2 separate regions of the Homo sapiens genome follow, and region 2 is linked to region 1. A link means that fine-mapping ties the variant in region 1 to the expression of a gene that starts in the linked region. Tissue or cell type: whole blood. Region 1 holds a variant in brackets; the other region holds the start of a gene. All regions are shown on one strand. Distances are from middle to middle.

Region 1 (8,108 bases):
TTTTAAGCCTGAGGACAAATCACTTCCCTATTGAACAGGAATTCCTTGGTCAGAGGCTAAATTATTGCCTCCTTTGGTCTCTCATCGCATCTAGCCTATAGCTTCACTGGGGCATGTTTTACTTGCCGTGGTTTTCATCTGTTTACGTCTTCTGTTGCATAGTGATTCTCCTCCACTTCAGAGACTATACATTCTTTATTTTCTTATCTCCAGTGCATCATAGAGTACCTGGCACATGGTAGGTACTTTTTTATATTTGCATAAATGAGTGAAACTAGAAATAAGGGGTGGTCTATTATCTAAGTATAGCTACCCCAAAATACTGGATAAGATGTTTTTTGACTCTACTAATGGGATTATATATGTTTTCACTTGCAAAGAAGCTTTATTTATTGGAAGTATTAGAAATATGATGGTACAAAGTGTAATTTCCAACTGAAATAGGTAGTTTCAAGAATAATGTCCTAGGATGACATGTGGAATGTACTATGGTATTCCCATTGCTGTGCTTTCTGTAGGCAACTTCAGTTCCTTGTTTTTGCAATCATTAGAACTTAACCTTTGTTTTGTACTTTTGTTGTGAAAACCAATTGATTCTCAGCAACAATATTGGAAGCTTCTTTATCCCACCAGGATTTAAGGTAGACTAGAAGATCCAAATCTGCCTTCTTCAAGTGATGCTTGAAGTTTTCACGCATATGGTGGGAAAACAACTGCTTCTCATTAGTTTAGTCTAAAATAAAAGCTGTTTAGTCTTTTGAACATTTTAATGAGTTATTTGCTTGATCGCTTGGGTGAAACATTTCTCTGCAGTTAAGCAAATATATTAGAGGCACGTACAAATCTGTCAAACTTGATGTGTTGACTTTGCTCAGAACTTGGTTATTAATAATTTCTTAATAAGCAGCCCTTTAATCCTCCTGGTTTTGTAGACTGAACCTTTCTGATATCAAAGGATGAAGAGAGAGACATAGTAAACCTTTCTGTAAACATTGAGAGGAAGTTGGTAGGAGGCTCTCTGGCCCTGATGTGGTTTGCAAAATACATCAAAGCCGAGCAGTAAGAAATAATTATAATCAAGAAACTGAAAATGGTGACACAGATATATTTGTCTTTTGGTGGGAATGTTACTCCATCACACCATTTAACAGAATTGTTTGGGAATAGTAGTAAACAGATTTTATTATTAAGAAGAACTAGGAAAATTTTGTCTTTTCACTTTATGACAGGAAGGCAGACCTATAGAGTGGATATTTTCTCTTTTTTCAAAAATTTTACTGTGCTTTTACTGTTATTTGGAATAAACTCACATTCTATAGGTTAAATCACCTACTCTATTTTTAAGGACTGTGAGTTACATATGCATATTTGCTAGTAGGCAAAGTAAATGAAGTTATGATTGTATTACCAAAGTACAAAATTTGCTAAGTAAGATTTGGCTACAGAGAGGATAAGGGATAAAAATAAATATCATCTTGGAATATTTTTAAATGCACAGTGACATTTCAGGAGAAATGTACTTAGTTGCCTATTTTTTGAAAAAGCAAAGATCAGAGAAGTGAAATGTGGGAGTGATTCTATTAATGTTTCTGGTAGATTTTCCTATATTCTTAAAAATCTCAAGTTTCTTTCAGATTCATACACTAATAATTATATAAAGAGGGCAGAGAAAACAGCAATTATTATGATGACTGGATTAAGTACCCTGGCATGAAACAGAGAAAAACAAGCGTATCTGCATATGGGAACATGGCCACATAATGTTTTCAGCAACAGATTTCTATGGAGGATTTTTGGCATGAGTAATAAACATTCATATTGTTGGAATTGCCACATGAGTTATACTGGGGACTATTTTAAGATAAACCGGAACCTGTTAATTATTTCTTGGACTCTATAGTTCTAATTTATGTATTGTAAGATAAGAAGAATGTAAGTTGTTGATGACTTTTCTCTGGAGCATTATTAGTGCAGGTGTTTGTGGTTCTGAAACAATTTGAAAATTAAAAAATTCTGTGTAGCATTTTCAAGTCAGTAGGTGTAGGGTGTATTGATGATTCAAACTAATATATTCTGATTCAATCAATTATAATTGGCAGAAGCAGATTAGAACTCTAAGTAGGATGGGATATTCTTACCATTTTTGACTTCTCTTATCCTCAGAATGTCATGAGGAAAATGTGATAATAATAATAATGCCAATCTCATAGTATGGCTACTGTGAGAATCAGATAAAATTATGTATGTGTAGGGCACTTTGTAAATTACAAGTTACTAAATTGTATCTATACTTATTACCATTTTAAAAACATCGACGTTACTTCTAGCAGACGCTTATGATGCACCGAGCTTCATCCTGTTAGCCCACCTGATTTTAGTGCAGCTTAGGTGGACAGCTCCATGTGAGTTAACAGCATCCCTCATCAAGCACAGGATGTGACCTCTCTCTGCTGCCTTGGAGTGCTTTTTGTGAAAGCGCAGAAGGCTGATCAGTCATATACAGACACAACCTGGAAGCTTGGGGAAGCGAATGCCCTATGAGATAGGCTTGCTCCAAAGGCTGGTGGGAATCAGTGCATAAATGTCTCAGGCTTCTTGTCCTCTGGTGAGACAAATCTGAGATATGGCCCACGCCATTCCCCAGAGGAGCCTCAGTGAGAGTGAGCTGTAGTTGCCCACAGCAATAATCAGCAGATTAACACATGGATTGTACTGTCTTTTCCCTACTCCCTCACTTCTGCTTTCTGGGGCTGCCTCTCTTCAAACCATCTGCACCCAGCCTTTGTCTCAAGCTTTGCTCTCTGGAGGTATTACTCTAGCCTAACTCCCTCTAGACATATTAGCATAGTGCTAAAGAAACAAAAAAACATCAAACTACAGCAAAAATGAGATATTTCAGTAAGCACCCTATGGAGAAAAATTCCTGGCAATGAGTTTTACTACCATACTGAAGGGATTAGGGAACTGCTGTGATAATAGGTACTGTACTCAGGACTTTCAGAACTTCAGAGCTGTTGTTTTCAGTATATTTCAGACCTTTAATTACAGAAGAAAGTCTTGAATGTGGGGAGTGGGAACTCAAATCAGTTCTGTTTGAGTCATTGAATAACACTGTATAAAGTCTGCTGTTATAAAGCACTGTGAAAGGGGCGACCTAAGGAATGAAGAACAAAACATCAAAGGAACAAGAAAGAAGGAAGAATTAAGAATCGTGTGGATAATTGAGTCCCCAAACTTTGCCTGTTTTAGGCTTCCTTCCAATCCAGCATTTATCTTGGGACTGCCGGGTCTTATGTTCCATGAGTGCTGGGAACTCTGTGTATTGTTCCCTCTGTGTCACCTCACACAGCACATGGGACACAGCAGCTGCAGATAAGCAAATTTGGAATAAATGAATAAATTAACTGATTGAATTTCCCTGCTTAGGAGTGTGATGTGAGGGAAAGCCTTAGACCAGAAGGTGGCAGAAGGGGTTCAAGCCTAGGATCTGTCATTAACCTGACACATCAGCTTGCCAGCTCAACAGTCCTGCTGGTGCTGGTTATCCCAACACCGAAACAAAGGCCTTTAATTGGTTTCAGAGTTTTAAGAAAACTTGTTAAGCAACCGGACTTTGAGAGCAAGCAGAAATGGGTGTGAATCAAGACATCCCAAATGGGTGACCTTGTGAAAGTTAGTTTACATTTCTAATCCTAAAGTTTTGAGTTTGTCAAAGGGATACAATGATATCTTCCTCTATGGATTGTTAGGATGCTAACATTTAACATAGATAAAACTTTTCATATATAGTAGTCAATAATGTCTACTATTCCCTGCTATCTTCTTTTATTATTGGATTTCTGTGAGTCTCCATTTATCTGACAAAGAACCCTAGACTGGAGGAAATAGAAGAAAAAGAGTAGGACTGAGTAATTGATAGCTTGGGAAAAACCCTTCCAATATCAAAGAACTATTTATTTTTGTTGTTATATATCCAAATATTATAGATATATTATCAGGAAAGTTGGCATGCATACTAGTAATTTATTTTCTAGAAAAACTAGTATTTTTAAACTTTCTTAAAACTCAGACGTTTTATTTTTGGTCTTCCAGATTTCTATTGCCTCTTTGTTTTTTCATCTTCTCTTTGTTTTCACGGGTATCCTGCTTCCTTCTGTCAGGGGCTTTCTTCTCCTCCTCTTTTTCCCTGAGGACTTGGAGTCTTGCTGCGAGTTGGTAGTACTGTCTTGAGGACTCTGTTCTTGCACCGACCTTTTCTGCCAGTTCCTGAGCTCTCCAGCCCCTTTCATTAGAAGGAGCCAAGCATTCATTTGTTCACTGAGCATTTTATTTTTGTAGCAACTTACTGAATCTTCCAGTTCAGTGGATGCATTCCAGGCCAGAGGCTGCCTAAAGTATTTTTCAACAAATACTGTCCTCCAAACTCTCCTTCCTGGGTGTGAACTTAAAGATTGTTGGATGGGAATGGGCATGCTTGGCAACAGAATGCAG[AG/A]GGGAAAACTGGTGAGTTTGGTGAGCTGGAAGCCTGGCTTTACCTGGCTAATATGCCTCAACTGGTGAAGACCCTTTGGTGTTAGAAATCATTCCTCCCCTCCTTCCAAATTAACCCCCAACAAAGAAACAACATTTTTGCTTAGAAGAGTTACTTGTTTCTGTGTCATACTGCAAAAATAGCTGCCATTCTTCATCTCTTTCTATACCCTTCCCTTTGCAATGCGATCCCTTCTCTTTGCAGCTTCTCCCATAAAAAGGTACATTCTGTTTCTCTAAAACTTGAACCTAGGCTGGACTTATGACTTTCCTTGACAAATAGAATGCAGAGAAGTAACTAAGTGTGATTTAGAAGCCTGGCCTCAGGAGGCCGTGTGGTTTCTACTCTTTCTTTGGGAATGCTGCCAGCCATCATGTGAACAAGCCTGGGCAGTCTGATGGAGAATGGGATACCATGTGGGCCAGCAAGGAGTCAACCCAGTTTCCCAGGCAAGGCTTCAGACATGTGAAAGAGCTTAGCCAAGATTAGCCAAGCCTGGGCAAATGAGCAGAACCATCTAGATGGCCTAGAGATTCTTGAGTCCTAATACAGGATTGTTTTAAACCATTAAGTTTTGAGATGATTTGTTATGCAGAAAAATTGAACTGAATTTAGGTTTTACAAACCCACTAATATACACTATGTTAAATTGATAATTTAGATTCCAGGACGGCAATGACAAGCATGGATAATAATAAATACCAGAGCAGAGATGGGGCTAGAGGGCAAAGTTCCAGTATGCAAGGATGTTTCTTCAATGTTGCCTTTATCTGATCTCATTGATGGGCAATTCTTTGAGGACTCAGGCTCTTTAGTGGCTTTCATAGTATAAAGCTTTTGTAATGTCATTATAATGTCATCAAGTACTTTTCCAGCTCAGGAGGTCTCAAACTCTAGGGCTCCACATTCCTTTTCTAGGAGTTTTGTCTGTCCTGGGGTATTGTGAAAGATGGGCACACAGGACAAATCAGGTGATGACTGAACTAATCTTGGGGCATTGCTGTTGGATGAGCAATGTTTATGAGAAGTTTATTGAAAATGTTCTGTTTATACTTCCTATATTACATTAAATTGCATGACTTCAAGGAATTATTTTTCAAAAAATCATTTTTTTTTGTTTCCAAGTAACTAAAGATGTAAGTAAACGATGAAAAGTCAGTTTAACTTTTGTTAACTCAGCATTTAATCTTGTGCTCATTGGCTTACACATGACAACAAAAGGTCTTTAATGCTGAGTCTAAAAATAATTTAAACGAACATGATGTTAGTAATTTCTTTCTGGAAATTCCTTTTTTTCACTTAGCAAATTATTTTCTCTCTACAGAAAGCGAATGCTATATCCAAGGCTTCCTCTCATTTAAAAATTTTGAAGGGAGCTTTTTCCTTAATTAGCTAGAAACATCCAGATTTCATTGGCTTTATCCAGAGGCTGTAAGTCCTCATCACTAGTCAAACTCAAAATATTCAGAACGGAATTTGGTAAACTCAAGAAGAAGTAATCTCTAGATATTTGAAGATATTTCTATATTTATATGTTTCTCCTTCAGGAAATTTTAGGACTACATTAATATTTTTTCATCTAAGGTGACCAGCTTTTCCATTTTTTAATAGGATTGTGAAATAGTCCTTACTTAAGAAGATGTTTGAGATTCAGGAGAGATAAAAACTAGATAGAGAAAAACACTGTTGTGAATCATATGCTTTCGAAAAGGAAAATGTTCAAATTATCACAGTGTTACATGCTGTTTGGCTGGTTGGCTGTGCCAAGATGAGATTGGAACTTTGCCTGTCAGATCCCTTGGCTTCACTGAGCAGAGTTTTGTACCAATACTGCAGTAAAATTCTTGCTATTTATTTAAGACACAAATCAACATAGAAATATATACTCTAAGCCTAGAGAATCGAGAGAAAACTAGTCTTGACACAAAATTAGTAACACTTAAATTTATTTAATTCAAAGTCCATGTTAAAGCTCCTTCCAGAAAGAGGCGTATAGAGACATTGCCCAGTGATTATTATATGTCAAGAGTCTGATGCTCAGATTGGGCAAAACCAAGAGCCTCTTTTTCTCTCTACCTCTTTGCTGAATGTCTTCTTAAACTGGCTTATTTTTTCCCAGTATTATACATTATAGCTATGTATTATACCTATAAAATTAGATGATCAGGTAATGTAAGGCTTGCCTTTTTGAGGCTGTATTTGTATCCGAAGACAGAGAACAGATCATAGAAAGTCTGTTTATCATTGAGTTTATCTCAGGTGGCCACAGAGACATTTTTATGGAAAATGATTATTCTCTATTCCCAAACTTTATTTTGGATTCTGCTCCCAGTCCCCATTCACTGTTTCCCAGGTCTAATAAGTTTCCTTCTAAATTTGCCTTGAACTGATTGGGAATCTGTGAAGCCCACGGAGGTATACTCAGAACTCAGTGTGATGTGAGAAAGTGCATTTTTCCAGGAAGAAAAGCCAAATCTCTTAGGAGATTCTCACACAAATACATGCTTCTCCTCTGAAGTTGGAGCACCATCACTTAAATTGGCCATTGTGATTAAAGATGCTCCATTTGCTATGACTTCTTTCCCAGATAAATTGGCATAAATGGCTTAGCTGTCTAACAGCTTATAATCACCACCCATAACACAGTTATCAAAAAAGTTCTAAACAGTATGGTATGACCCAAACTATAATAGAAGAGTGAATAAAGAGATTCATGTGACCTATGGTGGAAATTTTTGAAAGATGTCACACTGAATCTTTATAAGCCCAGTTAAGAGCTAGAACATTTTAGGCATTCTTGACAGTATTATAAACAAATTCTACACAATTTTTAGCTAATAAATGAATTTATCATCTCATTAAAAATAATAGTGATAGATGTGTTTAGAATTAGATCAGTGGCTTAACTATGTTAGAGCTCTAGGTTGGCATCTCCATGATTCTCTTGTTCTACCCTCATGGTTGTAAAATGGCTACCACATCTCCAGGCATAACGTCACATAAATGACTTTAACTAAAGGCAAATGTAGGGTGAGAGCCAAAATAGTGAATATGATCTGTCCTCATGTCACTCTCATCTTTTATCAGGGAAGAGAAAAAATCTTTCTGGAACAACTTTCTTTACAATCTCCCCAGATAACTATTCTTTATTCCTTAAGGGCCAAAACTTTGATGCATAGCCATTACTAGAAACAGGAGGTCTTGGAAAGTGAGTGACTAGATTTTTCAGACTTTGCAACAGGAGGTGAGTGATGGTTAAGTGGGTCAGGAATGGCTGCGAGGTAGCAACAATCGTGTCTCTGCTATGATTGCCAAAATTTAAAAAATCAAGAGATTTCATGTGAAAATCTGAATTACACCATCTTTGGAAAAATGAGAAAAATCTGAAAATGCTGGCTGTGCTTGTGTGAAAAAGATAAGCCATTGCTCAGTAGCAGTTGCTTTATTAGGATAGGGAAGGAAAATTGATTTTGCCACAGGCCTCATTATTGTCCATTTTCTTCCCAACACTGGGACTCTGTTATTTGCCATTCCTCATTGTGTTTGCCTTGTTGTTTTTGTTAGATGAGGGCTCTTT
Region 2 (8,108 bases), 120 kb before region 1:
TCTCAGCACCATTAACATGTGGGGCCTTTTCTCAGTGGAGTTTCCTTGTGCACTGCAGAACATTCGCATTCCTGGCTTCCATGCTACACTGTCTCACAAGTGAGCCTCTCTTTCTTATCACTTAAGAAAACTGAACTATAAAATAATCCTACATTTATCAAAGCTAGTTTTCGATAAATGGGGCATCTTTTCCTGACACTCAATGTATTTCACAGGGTGATAAACATGTCAGTACCACCAGGATGATATATCCTACTGGTTCAAAACTGCTTGAGCTATTTTAATCTATTCTTTTCCTCACAGCTTTCAGATCTCTACATGCTGGGTCTTTCTCTGGGCTAATTTTCTAGTTTCTTCCTGCTTTCACAATTGTTTAAAAATTCTTATAAAATACACATCAGTTCTCATATAGTTTTTGTTTTGTTTTTTAAAAAACAAAGTGTTGCTCTGTCACCCCGGCTAGAGTGCAATGACGCCATCAAAGCTCATTGCTGCTTAGAACTCCTGGGCTCAACAATCCTCTGCCTCAGCCTCTGAAGTAGCTAGGACTACAGGTGAGCCACCACGCCTGGCTATTTTTTTTTTTTATTAAGAGATGGGGTCTCACTGTGTTGCCCCGGCTGCAATCCTTCTACCTGGGGTGTCCTAAAGCCCTGGTACTACAGGTTGGAGCCACTTCGACTGGCCTTTGTTATTTTGATATATGTTGTTACCATTTAACTATTGATATACAATATAGATTTTCCTCTTTAGTTTCTAGTGAGCATTTTTTTTTTCTTTTTTGAGAAAGGTCTCACTTCGCCATCAAAGCTAGAATGCAGTGGCATGATTATGGGCTCAAGCCATCCTCCCACCTCTGCCCTCCAAGTAGCTGGGACTACAGGTGTCTGCCACCACGCTTGGCTAATTTTTTAATTTTTTTGTAGAGACGGGGTTTAGCCATGTTGCCCAGGCTGGTCTCAAACTCCTAAGCTCAAGCAATCCGCCCACCTTGGCCTCCCACAGTGCTGGGGTTACAGGTGTGAGCCACCGTGCCCAGTGAGCAATTTTATTTTTATATCATCTCTGGACCTCACATTAATCTATTTTTCTCAGTAAAAGTATACTGCAAACAGGCTCCAGCAATGACAGTCACATCCAGTTCCTCAAATTCTTTTTCTTATTAAGTATGTTGAGTAAACTGACCGTGGTTTTGTGTATAGACTGATACCAAAGGCCTGACCCTAAAGCCCTCAAAGACTTAGAGGGCTGTAGGGACATTAGACTTCAAACCCATCATATCCTCTTTCCTATCCTTGGAAAAGCAACGCACAAAGACTTTCTTAAACTCTTAATTTCTCAGCATTATTCCAGTGTGTCCACTATCCTTTGCGCTCATTGTCACACCCCTCATCTTTCAGAATCTTGAAGCTGTGAGGCGGAGGTTGCAGTGAGTCAAGATCGCGCCACTGCACTCCAGCCTCATCAACAAGAGCAAACTCCGTCTCAAAAACGAAAATCAGCAACGAGCCATTAGTAAACATTCATAATGAAGATTATGATGCTAAATGTCATTATTTGCATGCAAAGGTTTCCCCCTCATACTAAACCTCAGCATTTTGGGTTTCACTAGATTTAAAGCAGAAGTGAGGCTTCATTACAAGGCCACCTCTCTTTTCTGACTAGTGGGGTTTTAAATAGCCTGGTGGCTTTCCAGGTGGTAAGTCTCAGCTAATGGGCTCTGGAGAACCCAGCCTATCAGTTCATTTATGGAGTCCCTTGGCATCCTTGTACTGTGAAGAGCTGTAAGGCCTCAAAGAGTAAAAAAGGTGAGTTGAGAAGGTGTCACAGAGCACGAAGGTGGTCCCCACACAGGTCACAATTATGTAGCTGTGAACAGGCCACATGTTGCATCTTTCATAGCATCTGCCACAAAATAAGGGCTCAATATATTTTCCCTTCAATTTACTTTAAAAATCATTACCATTGCCTAAATGAAATATTACTGACATGGATTTTAAAAACTGCACATGTAACTAATGTCTAAAATTGGGTCACGTGAAACCTATAACCTTGAAACTGAGAATTTCCTTTTAGACTTCATGACAATATACCAAACACTTAATGCACCAGGGGCTGAGGGGAACAGAGAACCTAATTAATCACGGTGACCTGATAAATGAGGTAACACCCCTAAAGCAAGTGGCTCTCCTTTAACCTCAGTTCCATTTCCCTACCCCCCCACACCATGTCCCTTCAGATCATTTGATCTGAAGAGTTGAGGTGGGTACTTATTCAAAATGAATAATCAAACTTGCCTCCCAATTCCCAAAATCTGCAAGGTCCCTTAGACCTCTAGAAGTGCAATTTTGCTGACAGGAGAATGAAGGAAATTACTCTCATCCAAGGCGATTACCTCCACGAATTCTTAAAGGGTTATGTTACATAGTAGAATCCAGGTATTAATATAAAAACTGTAACTTCAAAATACTATAATGTTTCAATCAACAAAAGTGGGCAGAAAAAAAATTAAAAATTTTAAAACCCACCACTTCAGAAGCATTATGCTTTAGTACTCGGATAGTCTCAACATGGGAAGAAAACATCACTTTGTCAGTGAGTAACTTCTGATAAGTATGTGGAAATGTAAGCCACTCCGCTCGAAAAATGCACGCAGGGGGAATGACACGCGCGGTGCGGTTACCGTTGTGTCCCGATATCTGAGGCCGTTAAACGACGAGAAGAGCGGCAGTGTCTGAAGCACGCCTTCCTACCTCTCCTCCGCCCGGCCCCGCTTCCGGGACTCCAGTTCACCCGCAGCACCCTGACTGCAGGTGCCAAGTCACAACTGCAAAGAAACTTCCTTTTCTCGAGCGGGGGTGGGACTTGGCCGGGTCCCGAGGCCCCTGGCCGGCGGGCTCGGACGTTAGGAGCAGAACCAGCTCCAGGTCCCGGTCTGTCCGGGCGTCGCTGCCCTCTGAAGCTCAGGCCGGACGCCCCAGTCCCTGGCCGAACAAGGTGCCGCGGCCCACCCACCCCGGTACCCGCCGTCCGACCCCGTTGCCCTGCACCTGAGGATGTTGTCAGCATAGGTGAGCAGCAGCTTGGAGGCCTCCAAAAAGGTCTCCGGGGTGTTCTGGCAGAGCTCAGCCACGGCCGGGGACGCCGAGCCTGAGGAGCTGCCCAATGCCGCCGCCGCCATGCTTGAGCGCCAGCGGGCGCCGCCGCCGCCCCTCGCTCTCCGCGTCCCACACTGAGCAGGCGCCTCAGCGCGCAGCAGCTACCGCAGCCACCGGCAGGGGCGGGGTCCTCGGCCGGCAGGGGCGGGGTCCTCGGCCGGCAGGGGCGGGGTCCTCGGCCGGCAGGGGCGGGGTCCTCGGCCGGCAGGGGCGGGGTCTTCGGCCGGCAGGGGCGGGGTCGGGGGCCTGGGGCGGGGTCGGGGACCGGGGCCAGGAGCGGGGGAGCTCGGCTGGGAGCTACGGCTGCCCCTTCGCGGGGGGCAAGGGGCTGTTCGGAAGAAGGTGGGGGGCCTCGGCCGGCAGGGGCGAGGTGCTTCGACCCAGAGTTGGGGCCTGGTCGTACAGGTTGGGAAGGGGTTCCGCAGGGAGAGGCGGGGCCTGGGCTCCGGGGCTGAGGGGTGTGGGCCTGGAGGAGGGGGATGTCGAGTCCTTTAGGACGGAGGAGCTCGGCTGGAGGGGAGGCCGGCTTTGGTCTAGAGGTATCGGGCGAATGGTGCTGGCACGTGCCTCTCAGAAACCCGGATCCCTTTGCGCTCCGGGGCCAGCCTAATTGATCCAGCTATTAAGGTGGAGAAACCGCATGTACCTCCCTCCTTTCCCCACAAATAAAACCACCTTAGAGCCTTCTCTTCGCAGATTGTCAGGACGTTCTACATAGATGTGGATGAAAGACTACAGAAGGAAGGAGCAACAAACGTCAAAAACAAAACCATGGCTATAAACTCTGCTGGGTTTGTTATATGGATTCTTTTCAGAATTTGGCTAATGACTGAAAATCTAAGTTCCAGCTCAACTAGTATATGATTCCTCTGTAAGGAAGTGTATTTTTAAACCATAGGTTGCGACATAATAATGGGTTGTGGATTCGGTTTACCGCGTGGTGACCAGCGTAAAACACATGCATAATAATTACGCAATATTATAGAATGTCGGGGGCGGGAAGGGAATAAAAATTTGCATCCCACACAGTAAGGGTAAGTAATATTTTGTGACTTGTTTTTTAGGTAGATCATGTGATCAAGGTCTTTTATTCCTCTTAGAAGATGCATCCCTTACTACTTTAATCCAGTCTCTTCCCCACCATGTTCTTGAAAGTGTACTTTACCAGTGGCTTCCTTCTTTGCAGAAATTCCTTTTCAACCTCACGAAGTATTTTTCTTGACTTTATTTCTTAAGATAAGTGATTTGCCTGAATAACCTCTTTTAAATTTCTTGATGTTTCATCTGTTTACTTTTAAGAATTGAAATTTTCTTCCAGAATCTCCGAACAAGACCCTAAGCTATGACATCCAGTTCAATGACTATTCGTCTCCCAAATATACGTACGCTTTTAATAAATATGTAAATCTTTGGACCACCTTCCAAGTATGGTGTGTTCAACAGATAGTAGTATGTTACTACCGTCTGTAACTAAAATTTTCAGGGGCTTAACACAAGAGTAATTTCTTTCTGGCTCATATAACACTTTAATAATGCAGGTGTCATAATGTCAGTGGACCCAGTCTCCTTCCATACCTTAGAACAGGGGTCAAGAAACATTTTCTGTAAAGGGCCACATAGTGTTTTAGGCTTTGTGAGCCATAAGGTCTGTCTCAACTATTTAACTCTGCCTCTGCAGCTGTTGCTCCACAGACAATACTTGAAAATAAATGGGCATGGTTATGTTCTAGTGAAATTTTATTTACAAATCCAGGCAGCCTGCTTGGACAAAAAAAAAAAAAAAAAAAAAAAAGTCACACCTACTTTTAACCACATGAGCCCAGAAATGACACACAGCATTTTCTCTACCATATCATTACTAAGAATGAGGCCTCATCAAGATAAAAGGGGGTATTTCAGTAAGGCCAGATTTACAAAAAATAAAAAAAAAATTTAAAAACACATAAAAAGATAAAAGGGGAGAGTCTGGGAAATGTAGTCTCGTCCAACTACACAATGGATTGGGGGCTTGGGTCTGGAGATATAGCTATCACAAACTTTATTCCTCTTAATTTGGGTTTCTTTTTCCATTGATACATTTATTTATCCTTTACTAATTATATGAGAATAGTATATATTATACAGTACTTGTAACTTTTAAAAATGCAACAGAACTTTTTTTTTTTTTTCAAATAAAATTTTAGGGGCTGGACATGGTGGCTCACGCCTGTAATCCCAATACTTTGGGAGGCCGAGGTAGGTGGATCGCTTGAGCCCAGGAGTTCAAGACCAGCCTGGGCAACATGGCAAGACCCCATCTCTACAAAAAAAAAACAAAAACAAAAACATAGGAAGATTGTCTATATACAAAACACCAAAGTGGAAATGCTCTGGTATTGAAGCAGAGGTGTCAAGTGAAGGGCAGAAAGCTGTCAGCTAAGGCTTTCCCCTGACAGATAGAATGGTCATAGGGTACTTTTGTGGGGGAACAAAATGACTTTTGTTTTTCTCTTCATAATAGTTTGTTTCCTCAACTAAAACGCTATCTCACTGTAAGTTATCATTAGTTTTGTCTTCCCTATTTGATTAAAAGTCTCTTGTGCCATCTGTCTCAGACTGCTTTGCACACAGCAGGTACTGAATAGAGTTGTTGGTTAATCACTCAATGTAGTCACACAATAGTGAATCACTATACAAATTCCTGAAAGACTTCAACTCCTCCCCTTGCTAATGGTTTTTATGGAGGTTAACTTTTTAATATCACCAAACCAATCGTGGGGAAAATTTACAGAGTTCTTTCTTTTTTGTTTTATTAAAGAATAGTGTTAGCCAGGCGTGTTAGTGCACACCTGGAGTCCCAGCTACTTGGGAGGCTGAGAGGCAGGAGAATCGCTTGAACCCAGGAGGCAGAGGTTGCAGTGAGCTGAGGTTGCCCTACTGCACTCCAGCCTGGGTGACAGAGCGGGACTCTACCTCAAAAAAAAAAAAGAATAGCGCCATGATATGTCAACTCTAAAAATGATGTTTTTAATAAAGGTGAAATCCTGGGGAAAAAAAAAATCTTTATTTTGGAACAAAAATAAATAAATAAAAGAACAAGAATTTCAATGCTGATTTAGTACCCATTCTTTGGTTGTTTGAAACAACGATGGGTATAAAAGTTAGGGTAGCTTATTCAGCTTTTCTAAAGGAAATGGAAGAATTAGAATATCTCCAACTTGACTGAAGTGGGGGAAGCAGCCAGGAAAATGAGAGACCAAGTCCCTTTATATAATGGATTCCCTTAATAGCTTTATAAATGGCAATATTCAAAAGAGATTACAGTTACTCAAGAACTTTAACAGAAGTGTTGCTAAAGAGTTATTTGGAAGGACTTAAATTTCAGATGATTTTTTTAAAATGGTGATTTCCATGATTTTATGGACTGTACATTGTTATCACAATATTAATGCTATGGCATTGGTTTTCGCAAAAGTCATTTGGTGAGAAATGCACAAAAAGTGCATGTGTACTATCAAATGTAAGGATAAATGTTGATTTATTCATTCCATAATTCATTCATTCATCATGTATTTATGAAGTGACTACTAGTTGCTCAGCACTGTGAAGGAGACAAGTATGGTCCCTACTTTCATAGAAGTCATAAGTTTAGAGCAGTGGTTGGACAAGCAACAGCAGCATCAGCAGGAAACTTGTCAGAAAAACAAATTCTGAAGCTCCACATTTAAAGGTGGGACCCAGCAATCTGTGTGGTAACAAGCCCTTCAGGTGATTTTGATTAACAGTAAACTTTGAGAACTACTAGTTTAGAGGGAGGAAAATTTCACTGTGGGCTGCAGTTTCAGTGAGGGGGGACAACTTGAACAGAAGCCTTAAATTGAGAGGTTGAGAAGGTGAGAAAGGAGAGGACTTGCTACCTGTGAGAGACTCCCCACCCTCCTTAAATCATGTACAATATCCTAGTAACGTTTCCTTCTCAACATCTCCTGGATCTCTCCTTGCCATTGCCTTCAGAGCCTCGTGTTTCATCCATTCTTAACTTTCTTCCCTGTGTCCATTTCCACATCCTTCCAACCCACCCTGCTCATTTGTGCAATAGTGATCTTTCTAAAGCACCCATCTGATCATGTTGTTCTCCTGGTAAAAAGTTTTCTATGGCTCCCTCTATCCACATTCTAAAGTCAAATGGTGTCAGGAACCAGGCTGGTAAGTTAAATATTTTAAGTGGCTTTGTTCAAGACAAAGAGGAGTAAGAGAGACTCCAGTGAAGGGAATGAGAGAGTTTACCATGTCCTTTCTAGAGGAGTTTAGAATCAATAAAAGAATGTTGCACTCCAAATTATACCATGAAGGCTAGCATATGGTCTCTGAACTACGGGATTAAATCCAAAGTCCTCAGTATGATACCCCAGGCTTTTGTGATCTGGGCCCTGCCTTACTCTCATGCGTTTACTGTTGCTTTGTCCCACACTTCAAATTTGACATGGGCCACATATTTAGCTGTTTGTGGAAGATACCATGACACTTCATTTCTCCAGGCCTTTGTTCTCCTCCTGCCAGGATGCCCTTTCCCACCCAATTTACTAGACAAACATTCATTTCCAAGATGCAGTTCAAGGATCATTTCTCTGAAGCCTTTTCTGACTTTACGAGGTAGCACAGACCTCATTGTCCCTTTTGTGTTATAATAATTCCACTATAGCACCTGTTTCAACAGTTTGCACTTACTTGTTTCTATGGGTGTCTCCCTTTACTAGACCATAAACTTCTTGAAAGCAAGAGCCATACCTCTACTCATTTTTGCATTCAAACTTCAAGCATTGATAGGAAGAAAATGAGTGGTTGTTGAAAATAGCAAAAGCACAGAGATGAGAAAAGTTAGGGTCAATCAAGACATGTATAGTGAGAAAATCAGTTTGCTGGGTGGCAAGCTCATTTAATAGAGAATGGGAGCCATAATTGGAAAGATAG

What was found. PIP is the estimated chance that this variant, and not a neighbour inherited with it, causes the effect.
Region 2: it holds the start of NGLY1, and the variant in region 1 is fine-mapped to the expression of NGLY1 in whole blood (INTERVAL, PIP 0.98). The same link has a PIP of 0.9 or more in fibroblasts and skin.

The regions. Positions count from the first base shown.
Region 1 is chr3:25,900,998-25,909,105 of GRCh38, forward strand. The region is part of intron 1 of LOC124909357 (a long non-coding RNA gene); the gene reads left to right. Among named protein-coding and RNA genes, the nearest start is that of LINC00692, 31 kb to the left of the region's middle. RefSeq lists an enhancer at 5,067-5,732. The variant AG/A (reference allele first, on the strand shown) is at 4,492.
Region 2 is chr3:25,780,210-25,788,317 of GRCh38, forward strand. It overlaps NGLY1 (N-glycanase 1), which reads right to left and starts at 3,234. Exons shown (of 12, transcript NM_018297.4): 1 at 3,051-3,234. The coding sequence starts at 3,181. RefSeq lists enhancers at 1,027-1,196, 2,584-2,663, 2,824-2,873 and a silencer at 3,184-3,423.